Homo sapiens: one gene and its partners. The protein of the gene in region 1 interacts with the protein of each later gene in a pairwise test. Each region holds a gene or a part of one and is shown in the gene's direction. Other genes may lie near its edges.

What was found. Proteins that work in one complex are often made in the same cells at the same time.
Region 2: the proteins of CEP57 (region 1) and RASSF10 interact in binary tests that used the Homo sapiens proteins (3 or more experiments, as listed by UniProt).
Region 3: the proteins of CEP57 (region 1) and MAGEA2 interact in binary tests that used the Homo sapiens proteins (3 or more experiments, as listed by UniProt).

What each region holds. Positions count from the first base shown.
Region 1 is NC_000011.10:95,806,982-95,814,658, forward strand, and holds part of CEP57 (centrosomal protein of 57 kDa), read left to right. Parts: intron 1-5,950; coding exon 5,951-6,130; intron 6,131-6,486; coding exon 6,487-6,608; intron 6,609-7,677. UniProt on the Homo sapiens protein: Centrosomal protein which may be required for microtubule attachment to centrosomes. May act by forming ring-like structures around microtubules. Mediates nuclear translocation and mitogenic activity of the internalized growth factor FGF2, but that of FGF1.
Region 2 is NC_000011.10:13,004,174-13,012,474, forward strand, and holds RASSF10 (ras association domain-containing protein 10), read left to right. Parts: upstream 1-5,142; 5' UTR 5,143-5,403; coding exon 5,404-6,927; 3' UTR 6,928-7,946; downstream 7,947-8,301.
Region 3 is NC_000023.11:152,750,684-152,758,253, reverse strand, and holds the start of MAGEA2 (melanoma-associated antigen 2), read left to right. Parts: upstream 1-4,411; 5' UTR 4,412-4,466; exon of another isoform or gene 4,467-4,712; intron 4,713-4,862; 5' UTR 4,863-4,941; intron 4,942-5,740; 5' UTR 5,741-5,860; intron 5,861-6,431; exon of another isoform or gene 6,432-6,529; intron 6,530-6,679; 5' UTR 6,680-6,745; intron 6,746-6,825; 5' UTR 6,826-6,890; coding exon 6,891-7,570. UniProt on the Homo sapiens protein: Reduces p53/TP53 transactivation function through recruitment of HDAC3 to p53/TP53 transcription sites. Also represses p73/TP73 activity. Proposed to enhance ubiquitin ligase activity of RING-type zinc finger-containing E3 ubiquitin-protein ligases.

The sequences.
Region 1 (7,677 bases):
TGACACCTCATACAGCCGGGTCCCCTTCTGAGACTAAGGCTCCAGAGGAAGGACCAGGCAGCAACGTTTGCCATTCTGCAATATTTGCTTTTCTGCAGCTTCCGTTGGTGATACCCAGGCAAACGGTCTGGAATGGACCTCCAGCAATCTCCAACAGACCTGCAGCTGAGGGTCCTGACTGTTAGAAGGAAAACTAACAAAAAGGACATCCACACCAAAACCCCATCTGCATGTCACCATCATCAGACCAAAGGTAGATAAAACGACAAAGATGTGGAGAAACCAAAGCAGAAAAGCTGAAAATTCCAAAAATCAGAGCACCTCTTCTCCTCCAAAGGAACACAGCTCCTTGCCAGCAACAGAACAAAGCTTGATGGAGAATGACTTTGACGAGTTGAGAGAAGAAGGCTTCAAACGATCGGTGATAACAAACTTCTCTGAGCTAAAGGAAGATATTTGAACCCATTGCAAAGAAGCTAAAAACCTTGAAAAAAGATTAGACGAATGGCTAACTAGAATAAACAGCGTAGAGAAGACCTTAAATGACCTGATGGAGCTGAAAACCATGCCATGAGAACTACATGACGCATGCACAAGACTCAGTAGCCGATTCAATCAAGTGGAAGAAAGGGTATCTGTGATTGAAGATCAAATGAATGAAATGAAGCGAGAAGAGAAGTTTAGAGAAAAAAGAGTAAAAAGAAATGAACAAAGCCTCCAAGAAATATGGGACTATGAGAAAAGACCAAGTCTGCCTCTGATTGGTGTACCTGAAAGTGACGGGGAGAATGGAACCAAGTTGGAAAACACTCTTCAGGATATTATCCAGGACAACTTCCCCAATCTAGGAAGGCAGGCCAACATTCAAATTCAGGAAATACAGATAATGCCACAAAGATACTCCTCAAGGAGAGCAACTCCAAGACACATAATTGTCAGATTCACCAAAGTTAAAATGAAGGAAAAAATATTAAGGGCAGCCAGAGAGAAAGGTCAGGTTACCTGCAAAGGGAAGCCCATCAGACTAACAGCAGATCTCTCGGCAGAAACTACAAGCCAGAAGAGAGTGGGGGCCAATATTCAACATTCTTAAAGAAAAGAATTTTCAACCCAGAATTTCATATCCAGCCAAACTAAGCTTTGTAAGTGAAGGAGAAATAAAATCCTTTACAGACAAGCAAATGCTGAGAGATTTTGTTACCACCAGGCCTGCCTTACAAGATCTCCTGAAGGAACAACTAAACATGGAAAGGAACAACCGGTACCAGCCACTGCAAAAACATGCCAAATTGTAAAGACCATCGAGACTAGGAAGAAACTGCATCAACTAACGAGCAAAATAACCAGCTAACATCATAATGATAGGATCAAATTCACACATAACAATATTAACCTTAAATGTAAACAGGCTAAATGCTCCAATTAAAAGACACAGACTGGCAAATTGGATACCAAGAGTCAAGACCCATCAGTGTGCTGTATTCAGTAGACCCACCTCACATGCTGGGGCACACATAGGCTCAAAATAAAAGGATGGAGGAAGATCTACCAAGCAAATGGAAAACAAAAAAAGGCAGGGGTTGCAATCCTAGTCTCTGATAAAACGGACTAGATCAAAAGAGACAAAGAAGGCCATTACATAATGGTAAAGGGATCAATTCAACAAGAAGAGCTAACCTAAATATATATGCGCCCAATACAGGAGCACCCAGATTCATAAAGCAAGTCCATAGAGACCTGCAAAGAGACTCAGACTCCCACACAATAATAATGGGAGACTTTAACACCCCACTGTCAACATTAGACAGATCAGCGAGACAGAAAGTTAACAAGGATATCCAGGAATTGAACTTGGTTCTGCACCGAGCGAACCTAATAGACATCTACAGAACTCTCCACCCCAAATCAATAGAATATACATTCTTCTCAGCACCACATCACACTTATTCCAAAACTGACCACATAGTTGGAAGTAAAGCACTCCTCAGCAAATGTAAAAGAACAAATTATAACAGACTGTCTCTCAGACCACAGTGCAATCAAACTAGAACTCAGGATTAAGAAACTCACTCAAAACCACTCAACTACATGGAAAGTGAACAACCTGCTCCTGAATGACTACTGGGTGAATAATGAAATGAAGGCAGAAATAAAGATGTTCTTTGAAACCAACGAGAACAAAGACACAACATACCAGATTCTTTGGGACACATTCAAAGCAGTGTGTAGAGGGAAATTTATAGCACTAAATGCCCACAAGAGAAAGCAGGAAAGATCTAAAATTGACACCCTAACATCACAATTAAAAGAACTAGAAAAGCAAGAGCAAACACATTCAAAAGCTAGCAGAAGGCAAGAAATAACTAAGATCAGAGCAGAACTGAAGGAGATAGAGACACAAAAAACCCTTCAAAAAATCAGTGAATCCAGGAGCTGGTTTTTTGAAAAGATCAAAATTGATAGACCACTAGCAAGACTAATAAAGAAGTAAAGCGAGAAGAATCAAATAGATGCAATAAAAAATGATAAAGGAGATATCACTACCAATCCCACAGAAATACAGACTACCATCAGCGAATACTATAAACATCTCTACGCAAATAAACTAGAAAATCTAGAAGAAATGGGTAAATTACTGGACACATACACCCTCCCAAGACAAAACCAGGAAGAAGTTGAATCCCTGAATAGACCAATAGCAGGCTCTGAAATTGAGGCAATAATTAATAGCCTGCCAACCAAAAAAAGTCCAGGACCAGACGGATTCACAGCCAAATTCTACCAGAGGCACAAAGAGGAGCTGGTACCATTCCTTCTGAAACAATTCCAATCAATGGAAAAAGAGGTAATCCTCCCAAACTCATTTTATGAAGCCAGCATCATCCTGATACCAAAGCCTGGCAGAGACACAACAGAAAAAGAGAATTTTACACCGATATCCCTGATGATCATTGATGCAAAAATCCTCAATAAAATACTGGCAAACCGAATCCAGCAGCACATCAAAAAGCTTATCCACCAAGATCAAGTTGGCTTCATCTCTGGGATGCAAGGCTGGTTCAACGTACACAAATCAGTAAACGTAATTCATCATATAAACAGAACCAAAGACAGAAACCACATGATTATCTCAGTAGATGCAGAAAAGGCCTTCAACAAAATTCAGCAGCCCTTCATGCTAAAAACTCTCAATAAACTAGGTATTGATGGGACGTATCTCAAAACAATATGAGTGATTTGTGACAAACCCACAGCCAATATCATACTGAATGAGCAAGAACTGGAAGCATTCCCTTTGAAAACTGGCACAAGACAGGGATGCCGTCTCTCACCATTCCTATTGAACATAGTGTTGGAACTTCTGGCCAGGGCAATCAGGCAGGAGAAAGAAATAAAGGGTATTCAGTTAGGAAAAGAGGAAGTCAAATTGTCCCTGTTTGCAGATTACATGGTTGTATATTTAGAAAACCCTATCGTCTCAGCCCAAAATCTCCTCAAGTTGATAAGCAACTTCAGCAAAGTCTCAGGATACAAAATCAATGTGCAAAAATCACAAGCATTCTTATACACCAATAACAGACACACAGCCAAATCATGAGTGAACTCTCATTCACAATTGCTTCAAAGACAATAAAATCCCTAGGAATCCAACTTACAAGGGATGTGAAGGACCCCTTCAAGGAGAACTACAAACCACTGCTCAATGAAATAAAAGAGGATACAAACAAATGGAAGAACATTCCATACTCATGGATAGGAAGAATCAATATCGTGGAAATAGCCATACTGCCCAAGGTAATTTATAGATTCAATGCCATCCCCATCAAGCTACCACTGACTTTCGTCACAGAATTGGAAAAAACTACTTTAAAGTTCATACAGCACCAAAAAAAACAGCCCACATTACCAAGACAATCCTGAGCCATTAAAGTGATCATTAAAAAGTCAGGAAACAACAGATGCTTGAGAGGATGTGGAGAAATAGGAATACTTTTACACTGTTGGTGGGATCGTAAACTAGTTCAACCATTGTGGAAGACTGTGGCGATTCCTCAAGTATCTAGAACTAGAAATACCATTTGACCCAGCCATCCCATTACTGGGCATATACCCAAAGGATTATAAATCATGCTGCTATAAAGACACATACACATGTATGTTTATTGCGGCACGGTTCACAATAGCAAAGACTTGGAACCAGCCTAAATGTCCATCAAGACTGGATTAAGAAAATGTGGCACATATACACCATGGAATACTATGCAGCTGTAAAAAAGATTGAGTTCATGTCCTTTGTAGGGACATGGATGAAGCTGGAAACCATCATTCTGAACAAACTATTGCAAGGACAGAAAACCAGACACCACATGTTCTCACTCATAGGTGGGAATTGAACAATGAGAACACTTGGACACAGGGTGGGGAACATCACACACCGGGGCCTGTCGTGGGTTGGGGGGAGGGGGGAGGGATAGCATTAGAAGATATACCTAATGTAAATGATGAGTTAATGGGTGCAGCACAGCAACATGGCACATGTATACATATGTAACAAACCTGCACGTTGAGCACATGTACCCTAGAGCTTAAAGTATAATTAAAAAAAAAAAAAACGTGATGGGAAAGAATTAGGTATACCTCTGTGAAAAATCAAAACATCTGTACATCAAAACTAGAATTAAAGGCAGATAATAAAATGAAGAAAACTTTTTCCCATAGAAAAATGGGCAAAGGAAATTCATGAAAGGGAGAAAATTAGCCAATAACATATATGAAAAGATTTATACTTTGATGGAAATGGAAAATAACTAGGAGTAGCATATTTTTCTCATTAGAATGGCTATGATTCTTCTTTGACCCAGTAACTTTTTAGTTTTTAATTATTGATCATTAGAAAATCTTTTAAGACTGATTGCCTGAGGGAATTCTCACTATTTAATAATGCTAAAGTGAAAAAACCTACATATTTGTTTTGTCTCAATTTATTTTACACATATAGGAAAAAATTTAAATAACCAAATGACAGTCATTATCTTTGGGTAATAGGATTATTGGTTATTTTTCAGTGTGTTTTTTCTCAGTCTTCTACATTTACTGCAGTCAACATAATTTTATAATCAAACTTGAAGCGGACTTTAGAAAGTACTTAAAATGCGGATTTTAAAAGTATTATTTTTGTGTGCTTGACTGTAACTCTATAGTTGGTTTCTACATGTGCTCCTATTAATAAAATGTATTAATAAGTAATAGTTACTAATACATTTACTAATTTTAATTAATAAGTAATATATTAATAAGACAGTAATGTACTTTAGGACTGTTATGTGAACTTTGTATGATTGGCTAAATTTTTTACCACTTTATAAAAGTCTTTGAAATTTTTTTACCATAGTAATGGGGTTTTTACTTGAGCACATTTCAAACACTCAATGTCTTTTTTTTAATTTATTATTATTTTTTGTGAGACAGAATCTCACTGTCGCCCAGGCTGGAGTGCAATGGTGCGATCTCAGCTCACTGCAACCTCCACCCCTCCACACTCCCCACCCCACCCGGGTTCAAGCGATTCTCCTGCCTCAGCCTCCCGAGTAGCTGGGATTACAGGCGCCCGCCACTATGCCTGCCTAATTTTTTTTATTTTTAGTAGTGACAGGGTTTCACTGTGTTAGGCTGGTCTCGAACTCCTAACCTCAGGTGATCCACCCACCTCAGCCTCCCAAAGTGCTGGGATTACAGGTGTGAGCCACCGCACCCGGCCCACTCAATGTCTTTAAATTGATTTTTTAAAAAACAAATATGAGATAATTAACATTTTATTGTTCCCAAAGAGTGATCCTCCACTGGACTCATCCATCAATTTTATTTTTTATTTAGATGAGTTTATTCTTTCTTAATATACTTTCTCCGCATATGCTGTTACAGCATCCACGTTTGTGTTTGTATTTGGCAGCCATATTTTCTGCTCTTAAGAATCTTCAAGATAAGATTCGACGCTTGGAACTTGAGAGGATTCAGGCAGAAGAAAGTGTGAAAACCTTGTCTAGAGAAACAATTGAATATAAGAAAGTACTGGATGAACAGATACAAGAAAGGGAGAATTCAAAGAATGAGGAATCAAAGCACAATCAAGGTTTGTTGATGAAGAAAATTAAAATTCTATCAAAATAAGTGTTGTGCAGTATTAAGTATTCTAAAAGAAATAGTACATTAGTGTTTTGTAGCGGTATCTTCAAGTACTACAAAACTGCATTGTATTCTGGTGCATTTTGAGGAGCAAATGCTGTTGTCATACATGGCATTTATTTACTGAATGCAAGGCCAGTTTGACTAGCACGTAGAAAGAATGATTTAGGTAATCTGAAAAGGCGTCCAGGTCTGTGGAAGGTGTTTTTATTGTATACACAATAGATCCAATTCCTGTTAACAGCTTGTTAAAACTATTTTATGGGTGAGTTGATTTCTGCTTTTCTTATGTATTCTTTTTAGAACTGACATCTCAGTTGTTAGCTGCAGAAAATAAATGCAATCTATTAGAAAAACAATTGGAATACATGCGAAATATGATAAAGCATGCCGAAATGGAGAGGACATCTGTCTTAGAGAAACAAGTAAGTAAAGCACCTCACAGATTGATACTCAAGAACAGTTATGGGGAAAACTAATTGAATAAAGACTTTTTTTCTTTCGGTGAGGATTAATGGTGCTGTTACAGCCCAGGACTGAAATTTCTTGGCATCAGTTATGAAATCTAAATATGTGATTGGCTTTTTCTTGTTGTTATTGTTGTGTTTCGTAGAGTTTTACTTAAATGGTAAAAATACAGTTGTGAGATGTTTGAAAGTTATGTTAGCTTCTTTGAGTCTACATTATAAAAAGTGTAAATAACCATATACCTCTGTATCTCTGAAATTTGTTTAATGACTCCAGTGAGATAGTAGATGACTTTGTAAAACTCTTCAGAATTGTTACTTAGCATAGCATTTTTGTGCTTTCTTACACCAGAGATCTTCGTATTTAGGTGACCTGTACATTTGTGAGAAGATATCTCAACATCAGTCTCAAATATATTGATTGATCAATTGATTGGATCTCACTCTGTCTCACTCTGTCACCCAGGCTGGAGTGTAGTGGCATGATCTCGGTTCACTGCAACCTCTACCTCCTAGGCTCAGGTGATTCTCATGCCTCATCCTCCCGAGTAGCTGGGATTACAGGCGCATGCCACGATGCCCAGCTAACTTTTGTGTGTGTGTGTATTTTTAGTATAGATGTGGCCAGGCTGGTCTCAAACTCCTGGCCTCAAGTGATCAGGCCGCCTCGGCCTCCCAAAGTTCTGGGATTACGGGCATGAGCCACTGTCCCTGGCCTTGTGTGTATTTTTTTTTTTTTTTTTTTTGAGACGGAGTTTCCCTTTTATTGCCCAGGCTGGAGAGCAACGGCGTGATCTCAGCTCACCGCAACCTCCACCTCCCGGGTTCAAGTGATTCTCCTGCCTCAGCCTCCCAAGTAGCTGGGATTACAGGCATGTGCCACCACACCCGGCTAATTTTGTATTTTTAGTAGAGACAGGGTTTCACCATGTTGGTCAGGCTGGTCTTGAACTGCCAACCTCATGTGATCCGCCTGCCTTGGCCTCCCAGAGTGCTGGAATTACAGGCATGAGCCACCACGCCCGGC
Region 2 (8,301 bases), about 83 Mb from region 1:
GGATTCTGAAGATAATGGACTCATCAAACATATGCAGTAGAGAGTATGGGAGAGAGGCAGGATTTGAGGCAAGGAAATTGGTTTGAAGGAAAGTGCAAGGTCCAGGTTAAAAATAAATGAGGGCCTAAGCTAAGGCAATGCATTCATTCATTCATTCATTTATTCACTCTACAAATACTTATTGTCTACTGTGTGAGAGTTGATGTCTCAGGTGCTGGAGGTTAAGTAGGAAAAAAAGCATGCAAAACCCTCTGCCCTCACAGAACTTCAACATCCTGTGGGGAAAGGAAGTAGATGGTGATGAAAAACGGTGATCCTCAAGTTTCAGGTCTTGCTTGGTGAATGATGGGACCATTTTCTGAAATAGATATTACAAGAGGCAGAACAGGCTTTCGGAGAAATAATGGGTTCAACTTCATCTGTTTGACAAAGGTTTGGATGTTTGGCAGATATTCAAGTGGAGCTACCCAGCAAGCTGCTGGATATGCATATTTGGATAATTCTGGAATAGATGTGGAAGCCATGGCATATCAATTGTATAAAATCCCTGGGAGTGAATGAGATAACCCTAGGAGGATGTATGGAAGCAAGAGTCACAACTCAAATGATTACAGGGCTCAGGTGAGTTATGAATGTATGTGAATTGGGTCATATGTGAAATAGAGTGTTGTTTTTGTGGCTAAACAGAGAGTATATTCTGTCTAAGGCAGCAAGATTTGGCTGGTGGACCACCAGTTTGCAATTCCTACACTTTTGGAACTTCTTTCTATGCCTCTTGTCTCATTTTTCAAATAAATATTTTTATGGCAGGCAGCTAGCTGTTCATGAAAACCCATTTCCTCTTCTGAGATACTCATTGCAGTTCCTAGCCTCCTTGCCATTACTAGTGGCCGTGACTGGGTTCTAGCCAACGGGATATGAGCTCAATTTTCAGCCAATGCCTTAAAGAAGAGGGTGTGCCCCTCCATACTCTCTCCTCTTCCTCTGGCTTATATACATGATGACGAAGTCTAGAGGATTTTGGAGTCACGAGATGGAAGGAACCAGGAATAAGGCCACCTCCCAACCAGGACATCTTCTTTTGACTATTATCTGAGTGAAAAATAAATCTTTGTGATGTTTGAGCCATTATACAAGTTTGGCCCTGTTTGTTACTACAGCCTAGCCTAACTTAAGAAATCCACTGCTAAACCACACTAATCCTGGCTGTGACATCTCTAAGGTCAGGGACCATGTCTGTCCAGTTCATTCATGGATCCTCAACACATAGCCCAGGACATAGCATGCAGTAGGTACTTAATACAATTTCTTGACAACACTAGCTGTGTTTTATTGAGCATGTTTTATGTGCCAGTCACTGCACTAGATCTTTTATATATTGTGCATTATTTCATTTCATGTAATGACAACTCTATAAAGCAGGTTCCAATATTATACTTTTTTCCTCGTAAGAAGATTGAGGGTTGGAAAGCTTATAGCTGGTATTTGAAATGAGGCAGGGTGACTCCAAAACACACACTCTGAAACACCAGTACATGACCACATGCATACTCATTTCAGCATTTTAACTCAAGTATTTTCTCCCACCAAGAATGCCCTCAACCCCTCCTCCCCAATTATTGAAGCCTGCCTTCTGCATCCTTCCTAGCACCCATACAATCATTCTACCCTTTAATTAGTCCAGCAGGAATTTCATATATATCATTACTACAACAGGGATTCCATGTATTTGTCTGCTTCTAGAAATAAGTTATCTTGAGGGTAGCACAATATCTTAGACATTATTCATCTGAGTGTTCCTTAAAACATACGGGAAGATGGAGAACCTGCCATGTGCCAGGCACCCTAGGCACTGAGGACTAAACTGCAAATAGGACAGAGACAATCTTCTCTTTTGAAAAGCTCTATTCTTGTGGGAGTAAACAGACATAAAAAACGCATCACAGCACAATGTAACCTCCACATTAATAGACGCAGAAGAAGAGCGGGGAACCAGTTCTTTCTGGAGGAGGAAAGAAAGGACTCCCAGAGCAGGTGACATTTACCTGAGCTTCTGAAGAGTGAGTAGAAGTTCTCCAGTTGTTTAAGAGGAATCTCAATTAGTGGGAAAAGCATGTACAAAAGTGTGGATACATCAAGATGCAGGAGTTCTTCTGGATGGATGAGGTATTGGATTGCTAAAATGTAGGATTCCTTCATGGATTCATTAATTTATTCAACAGATACTGAGTAAACCTAGAATGTGTCAGGGATTGCACTAAATGTAAAGGATTCAAAAGTGAGCAAAACAGACATGATCCCTACCCTTGTGGAGCTTAGAATCCAGCAGGGATGGCAGCTGACTACAAAGCTCTAGCAATCCTGTGTGAGAGGAAAGGAAGAAGGGATAGCCCACATGTAAGTGAGAAGCTGGAGAAGTGGGCTGGTCCAGATTGCAAGAGACCTTTGACACCATTCTAGGGAGAAGGAAATCTCTCGTCAATCTATCACCAAGTCCTGCCTCTCCTGCCTCCTTGATAGCTCTCAATTGTGTCCAGTCTTCTCACCGCCACTATTCTCAGTATAGGTCATCATCTCTTCCTTGAATGAACGAGATAGTCTTCTAAAAGGCTTTCTTGCCTGTCATCCCCCACCCCCACCCATTGTCCTCAATGCAAACAGAGGGATCTTTAAAAAATCAAAATCTGTTCATGTTATGCCCTATGGTAGGCAGAATTCTAAGACAGCCCCATAATCTCCATCTTCCTGGGGGCTACTTTGGTGATTATATTACAGTACACAGCAAAAGGGGTTTTTCAGATATAGTTAAGGTTACTAATCAGTCAACCTTAAGACAGAGAAATTATCCAGGTAGGTTTGACTAATCAAGCACTTTAAAAGCAGAGTTTTCTCTAGCTAGTGGCAGAAGAGGATGGTAGATTGATTAGAAGCAAAGGAGGACTGGATGGATTTGACATGTGGTTGCTGACTTTAAAGTTGCAGGGAGGGGGGTGGATATCCTACAGAAAGGATCTGAGAGAGTTCTGTAGGAGCTGAGAGTGACCCTGGAGGACAGCCAACAAAAGAATGGGGACCTCAGACCTACAACTGAGAGGAACCAGATCATGCAAACAACCTGAATGGATTTGGAATTGGGTATTCCCCCAGAGCCTTCAGACAGGAACTTGAACCAGCCTATACCTTGCCTTTTGCCTCGGACATCCTGAGCAAAGTATGCAGCAGCCATGCCAAGTTGGACTTGTGATCTACAGAACAGTGAAGTAATAGATGGGTGTTGTTTTAAGTCACTAAGTTTGTGATAATTTGTTACATAACAATAGAAAACTAATATACCTCCGACCTTTCCAACCCCCCAATAAAACTACTGGGGATTTACCAGGCCCAGGCAGTTAATCGCTACACCAGTTCCATTAGGGAGGTATTTTTATTATCACCATTTCACAGACCAGGAAACTGAAGCTCAGAGAGATTAATACTTTTCCTAAGGTTATAGAGCTAGTACGTGGTGCTGAAATTTTTACTTGGCTGTTCTGACTCCAGATTTGCACTCTATGGGTTCTCATTGTCTTTAAGATAAATCCAAATACATAAGCATGGAATTAAAGGCCCTTCCTGATCCCATTCCTGTTCAATTATCCAACTTCAGTTTTAGGCACTCCTCTCAAATTCCTGACAGCCCCCATAACTAACATGCTCTTGATTCCTGACTGCACTACAATCCCTTCTAGAATGCTGCTTGTCCCTCCCCTCCATCTGCTTTCCTTTTGGCAGACTCTAATGGTCCTTTGGGTCTTGTCTAACACACCTCTTCTAGGGAAAGCCTTCCTTGCCCCTCCAAGATGGGTTGGATGCCACTCCAGGGTCCCCCAGAACCTCATGCTCTCCCTTATCAGAGGACACAGGACATTGTGTTGGGAATGTTTACTTGGCTGTGCCCTCCCACTAGACTGTGAACTCTTTGCAAGCCAGAACTGGCGATTAGTTCATTGTCAAATCCCTAGCGTAGGACCTGGAGCAGAGAGGTACTCAATAAATATTTGCTGAGTGAATCATTGAATGAACAAAAGTGCTTTAGCCAAGAGGCAATGGGGAGCCATCTAAGGTCTTGAAGAAAGGGAGTGAGCTTATTATTACACCTGTGCTCACAAGGACAAGTTCAGGGCAAACCTTGCACTCAGTGGACCATCCTCATCAGCAGTTAAGGATGAAACAAGTTCATTTGCATTGTGGCCTTGGGTTTCTTGCACTGTAAAGCTTGGCTGTTATCTCTTCTGGACCACATCTGAATATTAGAAAATGCCAGAAGCCTTCACAGTTTCCCCTTATGGAGGTGGAAAGCATAAAAATAGCTTGTGACTTGGGTCTGGGCCCTGAACTCCCACTAGAATGAGGAGCCCCTCTCCCAAAAAGGCTGTGGGAAGCTGAGGTGAAGGTGACGTGGAGACCCACTTACGTGACACTACAGGGAACGGGCAGCCGCCTCTGAAGGTCTGTCCCCCTCCAGCCCATACCGTTCCATGCCTGCACTTGCTCCCGGAGCACATTGCCGAATCTTGTTCTCCTTAGATATGCAAATATTGCTTCCTGTCGAGAAGGACTGGGAGGCCTTCCGCTTTAGAGGCAGCGCTTATAGCGCTAGCTGGTCGTGGAATGCGATTACAGCGTCTCCATTGGAGACCGCTGAGTGCCTCGGTTTCCCTGTCTGTGCAAAGTGCACTCCCCAGACGCCGCTGCCTCGAGGGACCAGGAAATGCGTCTGGGGGCGCCAGGAAAGATGAGAAGATAAAGTCACGATGCGTCCAGCTAGCTATAGACACAAGCAGAGGAGCCAGTAGGCCAAAGGAGACGCACAGCTGATCCGTGCCGAGGCGCGGGCTCCACTCCCTGAAGTGGAGGGACCCTTGAATCTTTCCTTGCGTAGGCGCGCGGCAGAGCAGCGATTTGGCGAAAAGGGCCGAGACTCAGGATGCCTGCAATGCGAGCGAGGGGCGGACAGGGCGCACGGGGCGCGGCAAGGCTGCGAGGGGCGGGCCTGGGCCCTGAGCCTCCTGCACTTCCAGCCACAGCTCTGGGCCTTGGGGGCGGGAAGGGGTGGAGCCACGTGGGGAGGAGCAAAACCCGGAGGTCCCGGGCACCTTGGGCAGAGCCAGAGCGGCGGGAGCCGGTCCTGGGCGCGTTGCCCCGGGAGCGCCCGTCGTCCGGGCAGAGCGCAGCCGCAACCGCGACCACAGCCGCAGTCGCTTTCCAGCCTGCCTTCGGTGCGCAGCGGGGGAACAGGGCTAGTGCAGCCGCCGGAGGGGGGCACGGGCTCCTCTCCCATCCCAGAGCTACTGGGCTGCCCTTGCTGTCCTCGCCGCCCCAGCAGACCCCGGCCGGACCTGCCACCTGCGCCCTGGTTGCGCCATGGATCCTTCGGAAAAGAAGATATCGGTGTGGATCTGCCAGGAAGAGAAGCTGGTGTCCGGCCTCTCCCGCCGCACCACTTGCTCCGACGTTGTGCGAGTGCTTTTGGAGGACGGCTGCCGGCGGCGACGGAGACAGCGGCGGAGCCGGCGGCTGGGGTCGGCCGGCGACCCGCATGGCCCGGGAGAGCTGCCCGAACCCCCGAACGAGGACGACGAGGACGACGACGAGGCGCTGCCGCAGGGCATGCTGTGCGGGCCCCCGCAGTGCTATTGCATCGTGGAGAAGTGGCGCGGCTTTGAGCGCATCCTCCCCAACAAGACGCGCATCTTGCGCCTCTGGGCTGCCTGGGGCGAAGAGCAAGAGAATGTGCGCTTCGTGCTAGTGCGCAGCGAGGCATCGCTGCCTAACGCCGGCCCCCGCAGCGCCGAGGCGCGCGTAGTGCTGAGCCGAGAGCGCCCCTGTCCGGCCCGCGGGGCCCCGGCGCGGCCCAGCCTGGCCATGACCCAGGAGAAACAGCGGCGAGTGGTGCGCAAGGCCTTTCGCAAACTGGCCAAGCTCAACCGGCGGCGCCAGCAGCAGACACCGTCGTCCTGTTCGTCCACTTCGTCGTCCACTGCCTCGTCCTGCTCTTCGTCGCCGCGGACCCACGAGAGCGCGTCGGTGGAGCGCATGGAGACGCTGGTGCATCTGGTGCTTTCCCAGGACCACACAATTCGCCAGCAGGTGCAGCGGCTCCACGAGCTGGACCGCGAGATCGATCACTACGAGGCCAAGGTGCACCTGGACCGCATGCGGCGTCACGGGGTCAACTACGTGCAGGACACTTACTTGGTTGGGGCAGGCATCGAGCTCGACGGGTCCAGACCGGGAGAGGAGCCAGAAGAGGTGGCGGCGGAGGCGGAGGAGGCGGCGGCGGCGCCCCCTCTAGCCGGCGAGGCGCAGGCGGCGGCGCTGGAGGAGCTGGCCCGGCGCTGCGACGACTTGCTGCGGCTTCAGGAGCAACGGGTTCAGCAGGAGGAGTTGCTGGAGCGCCTTTCAGCCGAGATTCAGGAGGAACTCAACCAGAGGTGGATGCGACGGCGCCAGGAGGAGCTGGCGGCGCGGGAGGAGCCCCTGGAGCCCGACGGTGGCCCCGACGGCGAGCTGCTGCTGGAGCAGGAACGGGTCAGGACGCAGCTCAGTACCAGCCTTTACATTGGGCTGCGGCTCAACACGGACCTAGAGGCCGTCAAGTCGGACTTGGATTACAGCCAGCAGCAATGGGACAGCAAGAAGCGCGAGCTACAGGGCCTTCTGCAAACTTTGCACACTTTGGAGCTGACGGTGGCACCGGATGGGGCTCCTGGCTCTGGCAGTCCCTCGCGGGAACCTGGGCCTCAAGCCTGCGCCGACATGTGGGTGGACCAGGCCCGTGGACTGGCCAAGAGCGGTCCTGGCAACGACGAAGACTCGGATACGGGACTGAGCTCTATGCATAGCCAAGACTCGGACTCCTTGCCCATGTGCGAATCCCTTGTGTAGGGGTGGGGGGCGGGGGGCGGGGGGCGGGAACAGGGGGATTCTTTTTTCTTGCAGAATGCAGTGGGCCAGCCGGCTCGCGGACTTGAAACCAGGCTGTTGCGAGCCCAGAGCTCCGGCTGGGCAGCAGCGCTCTGCGCAGCCTCGCGCTCATCTGGCTCCGGGGTGAGTGCAGAGCAGGGTGAGGGTAGAAGAAGTAGGATCCTCAATACAAGCTCATTAAAGAGAGGGAAGGAGGGAGGAGGCAAGAACCCCCTATACTGGAAAACAAACAACCCAAGGAAATTGACGTGGTCCGAGCCCATTTTCAAAGTAAGGAAGTATAATGGAGATTTCGCTACTCTTCTGTATGGGAAGGACTGATGGCAGCTAGAACTTTAGTTTGTGGTATGAAGTGCTTTAAAAGAAACACTTGGATGAAAAGGAAATTCCTTGAATGTTAATTGTGACTGTAAACGTGTTAAAACTAGCCAAAGAGGACGCACTGGTGTCGGTCTCTGCCTTTCTTACCTCTTTGATAAAACCCATAGGCACCAAAATCCTGGCTGTTTACATTTCTGCAGATTTGGGAATTACCCATCTGCTAAATCATTTGTCTTTTATTTTCTTTCAAAGGCTAAACTGTATCGAAGTCTAACCCTGTATTTCCTCCTAGTAAACACAATAGATGTTAAAAGGGAATTCTTTTCCCAAAATAACCTTTTATTATTACAAAAGCCAAACATAATCATTTGAGATATAAAATCCTGGCAAACATAATCGTGGTTAAAATTTAATCTGGGCCCTTTGGGATCTGTCCCTTCAAAGGCAGGTGAGTTGCCCTTTAATTCGTATTGCCACTTCATTGACTCAATCACTGTTATTTCAGAAAAAAATAAAAGGAAGTAGCAGAATTCAAGTTACGCAAAACAAAACTTGCTGTCTAACAAGCACTCTTTGAAAGCAAAGATGTTTTAGTGTTCAGCTTTTAAATTGAGCTATGTGATTAAAACCAACCATGACCTTAACGGATTTTACCCAAACTCGTCTAACTTCAGTATGTTTTGTCAGAGATTAATCAGTTACTTGTTCAAACTTAAATTGAGATAGTGTAAATATCAGGGTTTCCTAGATAAGGACAGAAAAGAAAAAAATAAAACAATCTCATAGTACTCCTTGGGTGAACAATGTGATTAACGATGGCACGTAGTCATGGAAAAAAAGATAAAAAGTGAGTTAAGAACTTGAATTACTCTTGTCTGGCACACGCCTATGCACATGCCAGGAGATGCAAGTGCAACACCATCTCAGTAGCTGGCGACAGAGCTGGTGGGGACTCCATGTAATTGTTCCAGTTGTTTCAATTAAAACTTATCAGTTGTAGCTAGTTGTTGGCCC
Region 3 (7,570 bases), on another chromosome or scaffold:
ATTAAAATAAAAATCTTATGCTCTTCAAAGGACAATGTTAAGAGAATGAAAACAGAAGCCACAGACTAGCAGAAAACATCTGCGGTACACATATGTGATAAAGAACTTGTCTCTACAATATATGCGAATTCTTAAAGCTCAATGATAGAAAAAATGAAAATAGTCAAAGATCTGAACACACACTACACAAAAGAAGATATACACATGGCAAATAAGCATAATAAAAGTACTGAGCACCCTTTGGCATTAGATAATTGTGTACTAAAATGGGATACCACTGCACACCTATCAGAATGTCCAAAATCCATAGAAAACCAAAACAAAGAATACAAGACCAAGAACAATTGCCAGCGAAGATGTGGAGCAACGGAAACTCTCCTTCATTGCTGGTAGAAATGCAAAATGGCACAGCCACTTTGGAAGGCAGTTTGGCGTTTTCTTAAAAAAATGAAAATAGACTTAGCACAAGATTCAGCAGCCATACTCAATCAATTTACCCAATTGATTTGAAAACTTATGTCTACATAAAAATTTGTATATGAATGTATACAATAGCTTATTTCATAATCACCAAAAATAGAAGCATCCAAAATGTATTTCATTTGGTGAATGGATATATATATATATACATATATATATATATATATAACCAGACATTGATACTACTCCTCAATGAAAAGGAATAAGTTCCAAGCCACACAAAGTTATACATGACTCTTCAGTTCATTATGCTAAGTGAAAGAAACCAGTCTAAAAAGGCTACATAGTATAAGATTCTATTTATATGACATTCTGGAAAATGCAAAATTATAAAGATGAAAAACCTATCAGTGGTGGCCATGGGGTTTATCCGACAAGCACAAGGGAATTTATCAGGGCAGTGAAACTGGTATGCATAATACTGCAATGGTGGTTCCGTGCTTGCTTTGGTCTGAATATTTGTGTTGCCACAAAATTCATCTGCTGAATTACCAAGGTGATGGTATTAGGCAGAAGGTGGGGTATTTGGAGAATGACTAGATCATGAGAGCAGAGTCCTCATGAATGGGATTAGTGTTTTTATAAAACAGACTCCACGGAGATCCCTTATCCCTTCTTGCATGTGAGGATCTAGGGAAAAGGCAGCTGTCTATGAACTAGGGAGCAGGACTCCACCAGACATGAAATCTGCCAGCACCTTGATCTTGGACTTCCCAACCTCCAGAATGTGAGAAATAAAGTTGCGTTGTCTATAAGCCACCCAGTCTATCACTATTTTTGTTATGGAAGCCCAAACGGACTAAGACAATGGCACGAGGCATTTGTCAAAACCCATAGATCTTTACAGCACAAAGAGTGAAGCTTAATGTATGTAAAGTTTAAAAGTAACTTAAGAGGTTGGAGAATCACGGGACGGCAGGTAGAATGTTCCACACACACACACACACACACACACACCTAGTTGTATAATAGATATATGAAACCACCACAATGAAGCAAGTGGGGGGAAAAGTTAACACATTTTGTACTCCATCAAAGAAATATATATTTTATAAAGTTTAAGTTGGCCAGATAAGTGTGTAACATAGTTGAACATTTGATAATCATTTATTTAATTTTTTAGATATGAAAACTATCGGCTTTTTGTTTTAAAAAAATCCTTATCTTTTAAAAATGCATATTAAGTTATTTAGAGATGAAATGGTCTAATGCCTTAGATTTACTCCACGTTATTCCAGCAGCTCATATGCAGGTAGGCGAGTGTTTAACTGGAACCAGATTTGCTGTGTATTTAAAGATGTTCATGCTCGGTATCAAGTATCCTGGGTTCATTATATTCGTTCCTGTTATTCTGTATGTGTGAAGGCTTTCCCTAATAAAACTTTTTTATCATAAATATGCCATTAAAAGTGAAATCCTAAATGAAACTGACCACTTTGTAGAAATAAAATAAATCAGTAACCAAACTGATCCAAAGAGGAAAAGAAAACTTTAACTATACAACAGAAACTGTACAATATTCAAAGCTCAAGCCACCCTCAAACATTCCAGGTTAGACAGCTTTGGAGGCCAATTTTACCAAATGATCAGGGAAAACTAACCACCGCCTTATATCAACTCTTCCAGAACATACAAAAGACTGACAATTGTTCAGTTCATTCTCCCAGGCTAGCCCTCCTGGATTTAAAAACCAGATGAGGACCACATACCTCCCCTGATGGAAAAAGAACACATCAAGTAAGCTCTCTTACACAGCAGTAAATATCCTACATAAATTAGTAGTACATTAAACGAATAAACAGGCTCTGCCCAAGGAAATAAAATATGATTTAACATTAGAAAAAACATCTGTTTCATTGTGATTCCTTACATACAAAATGGAAGAGAAAAAAATTTGATCCTGCCAACGGGTACAGAAAAAGCTTTTTAAATAAATTTAATATGAATTCATGGTAAAAAAGAAAATATTTAGGCAACCTATACTGAAAGAGAACTTCCATTTCCTAAAATCAACAGCAAACATACTTAAATGTCAAATGTTCGAAGAATTATCATTCAAGTCAGGAACGAGAAGTAGATGTAGCCTATTATCTCTACATTTGAAATCAGGATTGAGACACAAAGAGCTGTAAGTACCGAAATGAGTGAGTGGTATGAACATTGGAAAAACATGTAGTGTTTAGTGATAATACCATTATCGATCTTGAAAATTCAAAGGAAAAGGTATGCGGAATATTCAAGTGCATCGGCCTTCAGAACGAGGTGTGCAACAGATTACTACAGCAAAATCAAAATCTTCACCTCACGAAAGCAATAACTAACTACAACAATTGATAGACAATATGCCACTTGCAATAGCAACAAAATCCAAGAATTACCTGAATAGAAGCCTAATAAAAATGTATAAGTTGTTTATAGAGGCAACTACCGAAGTATACTGACATATTCAGGAAAAAAGAGCTTGAAATCCATAGAGGAGTATAACATATTCATTCACGGGGAACACAACAGTGTAAAAATGTAAACTCAGCTTAAATTATTTACAATTTAGTGCCTTACCTGTAGCCGCCGACATTACAAGCAAATTTGGGCTGCTGTGCTCTGCTTCCCAAATCAACCCTGTAAATTTATAGAATGGAAACAGAAAGTAAAACACCAGTATCAGCAAGAAAATCTACACAACAAAACAGGGAAAGCCCAGAGTGAGACTGGAGACTGTGTTGAGCTGGTACTTGTGTGTGACACTTGCAGTGTCTGTTGGAGGGGGTTAGCGGCAGAGATGTTGGGGAGGTTTGTAGCCTGCCTAGACGGCAGATGAAAGAATGGGTAGAATAAAAGTTTTGAATTTTCCACTTCACTTCATTGCACAATCTGAGGCAGCCCCTGAAAACACGATGCCAAGAGCCCTAGGTAATAGCAGTGTCCACCAGGAAAATTGGGTTTGTTAAGGCAGCATGGCTCCAGAGTTCTGCTAATAACAACCTGAAACCAACAGAGTGGGAGAGGAATTATGTTTTTTAAAAAAATTCTTTCAACAGAACACAAAGACTGGAATGGAAGTAGACTAGGATATCAGAGTGAATCATGCATACTAAGGGTAGGTGTTAGTTCATAGAAATAAATATATATATTGCTACCTACATATATACTTAGAAGATATGTAAACCGTATTTCTTCAATTCAGAGAATAAATCATTTAGGACCAAAGGTTTGCCAAGTGTAGCTCTGGCTGGGGAGGAGCCCCCGTGGGAAGGTGTGCGTCTTCTCCCAGAGGTCACTATCATCGCGGGAGCTCCTGCCCTGCAGGGAGCACCTGGCCTGGCACCCGCAGCCATTCTCTACAAGGGGTGCAGATGCGCAGATGCGCAGATGCTCAGAGGTGACAGAAACAGAGCATCTCCCACCCATTCCTTCATCAAACAGCCAGGAGTGAGGAAGAGGACCCTCCTGAGTGAGGACTGAGGATCCACCCTCACCCACATAGTGGGACCACAGAATCCAGCTCAGCCCCTCTTGTCAGCCCTGGTACACACTGGCAATGATCTCACCCCGAGCACACCCCTCCCCCCAATGCCACTTCGGGCCGACTCAGAGTCAGAGACTTGGTCTGAGGGGAGCAAACACAATCGGCAGAGGATGGCGGTCCAGGCTCAGTCTGGCATCCAAGTCAGGACCTTGAGGGATGACCAAAGGCCCCTCCCACCCCCAACTCCCCCGACCCCACCAGGATCTACAGCCTCAGGATCCCCGTCCCAATCCCTACCCCTACACCAACACCATCTTCATGCTTACCCCCACCCCCCCATCCAGATCCCCATCCGGGCAGAATCCGGTTCCACCCTTGCCGTGAACCCAGGGAAGTCACGGGCCCGGATGTGACGCCACTGACTTGCGCATTGGAGGTCAGAGGACAGCGAGATTCTCGCCCTGAGCAACGGCCTGACGTCGGCGGAGGGAAGCAGGCGCAGGCTCCGTGAGGAGGCAAGGTAAGACGCCGAGGGAGGACTGAGGCGGGCCTCACCCCAGACAGAGGGCCCCCAATAATCCAGCGCTGCCTCTGCTGCCGGGCCTGGACCACCCTGCAGGGGAAGACTTCTCAGGCTGAGTCGCCACCACCTCACCCCGCCACCCCCCGCCGCTTTAACCGCAGGGAACTCTGGCGTAAGAGCTTTGTGTGACCAGGGCAGGGCTGGTTAGAAGTGCTCAGGGCCCAGACTCAGCCAGGAATCAAGGTCAGGACCCCAAGAGGGGACTGAGGGCAACCCACCCCCTACCCTCACTACCAATCCCATCCCCCAACACCAACCCCACCCCCATCCCTCAAACACCAACCCCACCCCCAAACCCCATTCCCATCTCCTCCCCCACCACCATCCTGGCAGAATCCGGGCTTTGCCCCTGCAATCAACCCACGGAAGCTCCGGGAATGGCGGCCAAGCACGCGGATCCTGACGTTCACATGTACGGCTAAGGGAGGGAAGGGGTTGGGTCTCGTGAGTATGGCCTTTGGGATGCAGAGGAAGGGCCCAGGCCCTCCTGGAAGACAGTGGAGTCCTTAGGGGACCCAGCATGCCAGGACAGGGGGCCCACTGTACCCCTGTCTCAAACTGAGCCACCTTTTCATTCAGCCGCGGGAATCCTAGGGATGCAGACCCACTTCAGCAGGGGGTTGGGGCCCAGCCCTGCGAGGAGTCAAGGGGAGGAAGAAGAGGGAGGACTGAGGGGACCTTGGAGTCCAGATCAGTGGCAACCTTGGGCTGGGGGATCCTGGGCACAGTGGCCGAATGTGCCCCGTGCTCATTGCACCTTCAGGGTGACAGAGAGTTGAGGGCTGTGGTCTGAGGGCTGGGACTTCAGGTCAGCAGAGGGAGGAATCCCAGGATCTGCCGGACCCAAGGTGTGCCCCCTTCATGAGGACTGGGGATACCCCCGGCCCAGAAAGAAGGGATGCCACAGAGTCTGGCCGTCCCTTGTTCTTAGCTCTGGGGGAACCTGATCAGGGATGGCCCTAAGTGACAATCTCATTTGTACCACAGGCAGGAGGTTGGGGAACCCTCAGGGAGATAAGGTGTTGGTGTAAAGAGGAGCTGTCTGCTCATTTCAGGGGGTTGGGGGTTGAGAAAGGGCAGTCCCTGGCAGGAGTAAAGATGAGTAACCCACAGGAGGCCATCATAACGTTCACCCTAGAACCAAAGGGGTCAGCCCTGGACAACGCACGTGGGGGTAACAGGATGTGGCCCCTCCTCACTTCTGTTTCCAGATCTCAGGGAGTTGATGACCTTGTTTTCAGAAGGTGACTCAGGTCAACACAGGGGCCCCCATCTGGTCGACAGATGCAGTGGTTCTAGGATCTGCCAAGCATCCAGGTGGAGAGCCTGAGGTAGGATTGAGGGTACTCCTGGGCCAGAATGCAGACAGGGGGCCCCATAGAAATCTGCCCTGCCCCTGCGGTTACTTCAGAGACCCTGGGCAGGGCTGTCAGCTGAAGTCCCTCCATTATCCTGGGATCTTTGATGTCAGGGAAGGGGAGGCCTTGGTCTGAAGGGGCTGGAGTCAGGTCAGTAGAGGGAGGGTCTCAGGCCCTGCCAGGAGTGGACGTGAGGACCAAGCGGACTCGTCACCCAGGACACCTGGACTCCAATGAATTTGGACATCTCTCGTTGTCCTTCGCGGGAGGACCTGGTCACGTATGGCCAGATGTGGGTCCCCTCATCTCCTTCTGTACCATATCAGGGATGTGAGTTCTTGACATGAGAGATTCTCAAGCCAGCAAAAGGGTGGGATTAGGCCCTACAAGGAGAAAGGTGAGGGCCCTGAGTGAGCACAGAGGGGACCCTCCACCCAAGTAGAGTGGGGACCTCACGGAGTCTGGCCAACCCTGCTGAGACTTCTGGGAATCCGTGGCTGTGCTTGCAGTCTGCACACTGAAGGCCCGTGCATTCCTCTCCCAGGAATCAGGAGCTCCAGGAACCAGGCAGTGAGGCCTTGGTCTGAGTCAGTGTCCTCAGGTCACAGAGCAGAGGGGACGCAGACAGTGCCAACACTGAAGGTTTGCCTGGAATGCACACCAAGGGCCCCACCCGCCCAGAACAAATGGGACTCCAGAGGGCCTGGCCTCACCCTCCCTATTCTCAGTCCTGCAGCCTGAGCATGTGCTGGCCGGCTGTACCCTGAGGTGCCCTCCCACTTCCTCCTTCAGGTTCTGAGGGGGACAGGCTGACAAGTAGGACCCGAGGCACTGGAGGAGCATTGAAGGAGAAGATCTGTAAGTAAGCCTTTGTCAGAGCCTCCAAGGTTCAGTTCAGTTCTCACCTAAGGCCTCACACACGCTCCTTCTCTCCCCAGGCCTGTGGGTCTTCATTGCCCAGCTCCTGCCCGCACTCCTGCCTGCTGCCCTGACCAGAGTCATCATGCCTCTTGAGCAGAGGAGTCAGCACTGCAAGCCTGAAGAAGGCCTTGAGGCCCGAGGAGAGGCCCTGGGCCTGGTGGGTGCGCAGGCTCCTGCTACTGAGGAGCAGCAGACCGCTTCTTCCTCTTCTACTCTAGTGGAAGTTACCCTGGGGGAGGTGCCTGCTGCCGACTCACCGAGTCCTCCCCACAGTCCTCAGGGAGCCTCCAGCTTCTCGACTACCATCAACTACACTCTTTGGAGACAATCCGATGAGGGCTCCAGCAACCAAGAAGAGGAGGGGCCAAGAATGTTTCCCGACCTGGAGTCCGAGTTCCAAGCAGCAATCAGTAGGAAGATGGTTGAGTTGGTTCATTTTCTGCTCCTCAAGTATCGAGCCAGGGAGCCGGTCACAAAGGCAGAAATGCTGGAGAGTGTCCTCAGAAATTGCCAGGACTTCTTTCCCGTGATCTTCAGCAAAGCCTCCGAGTACTTGCAGCTGGTCTTTGGCATCGAGGTGGTGGAAGTGGTCCCCATCAGCCACTTGTACATCCTTGTCACCTGCCTGGGCCTCTCCTACGATGGCCTGCTGGGCGACAATCAGGTCATGCCCAAGACAGGCCTCCTGATAATCGTCCTGGCCATAATCGCAATAGAGGGCGACTGTGCCCCTGAGGAGAAAATCTGGGAGGAGCTGAGTAT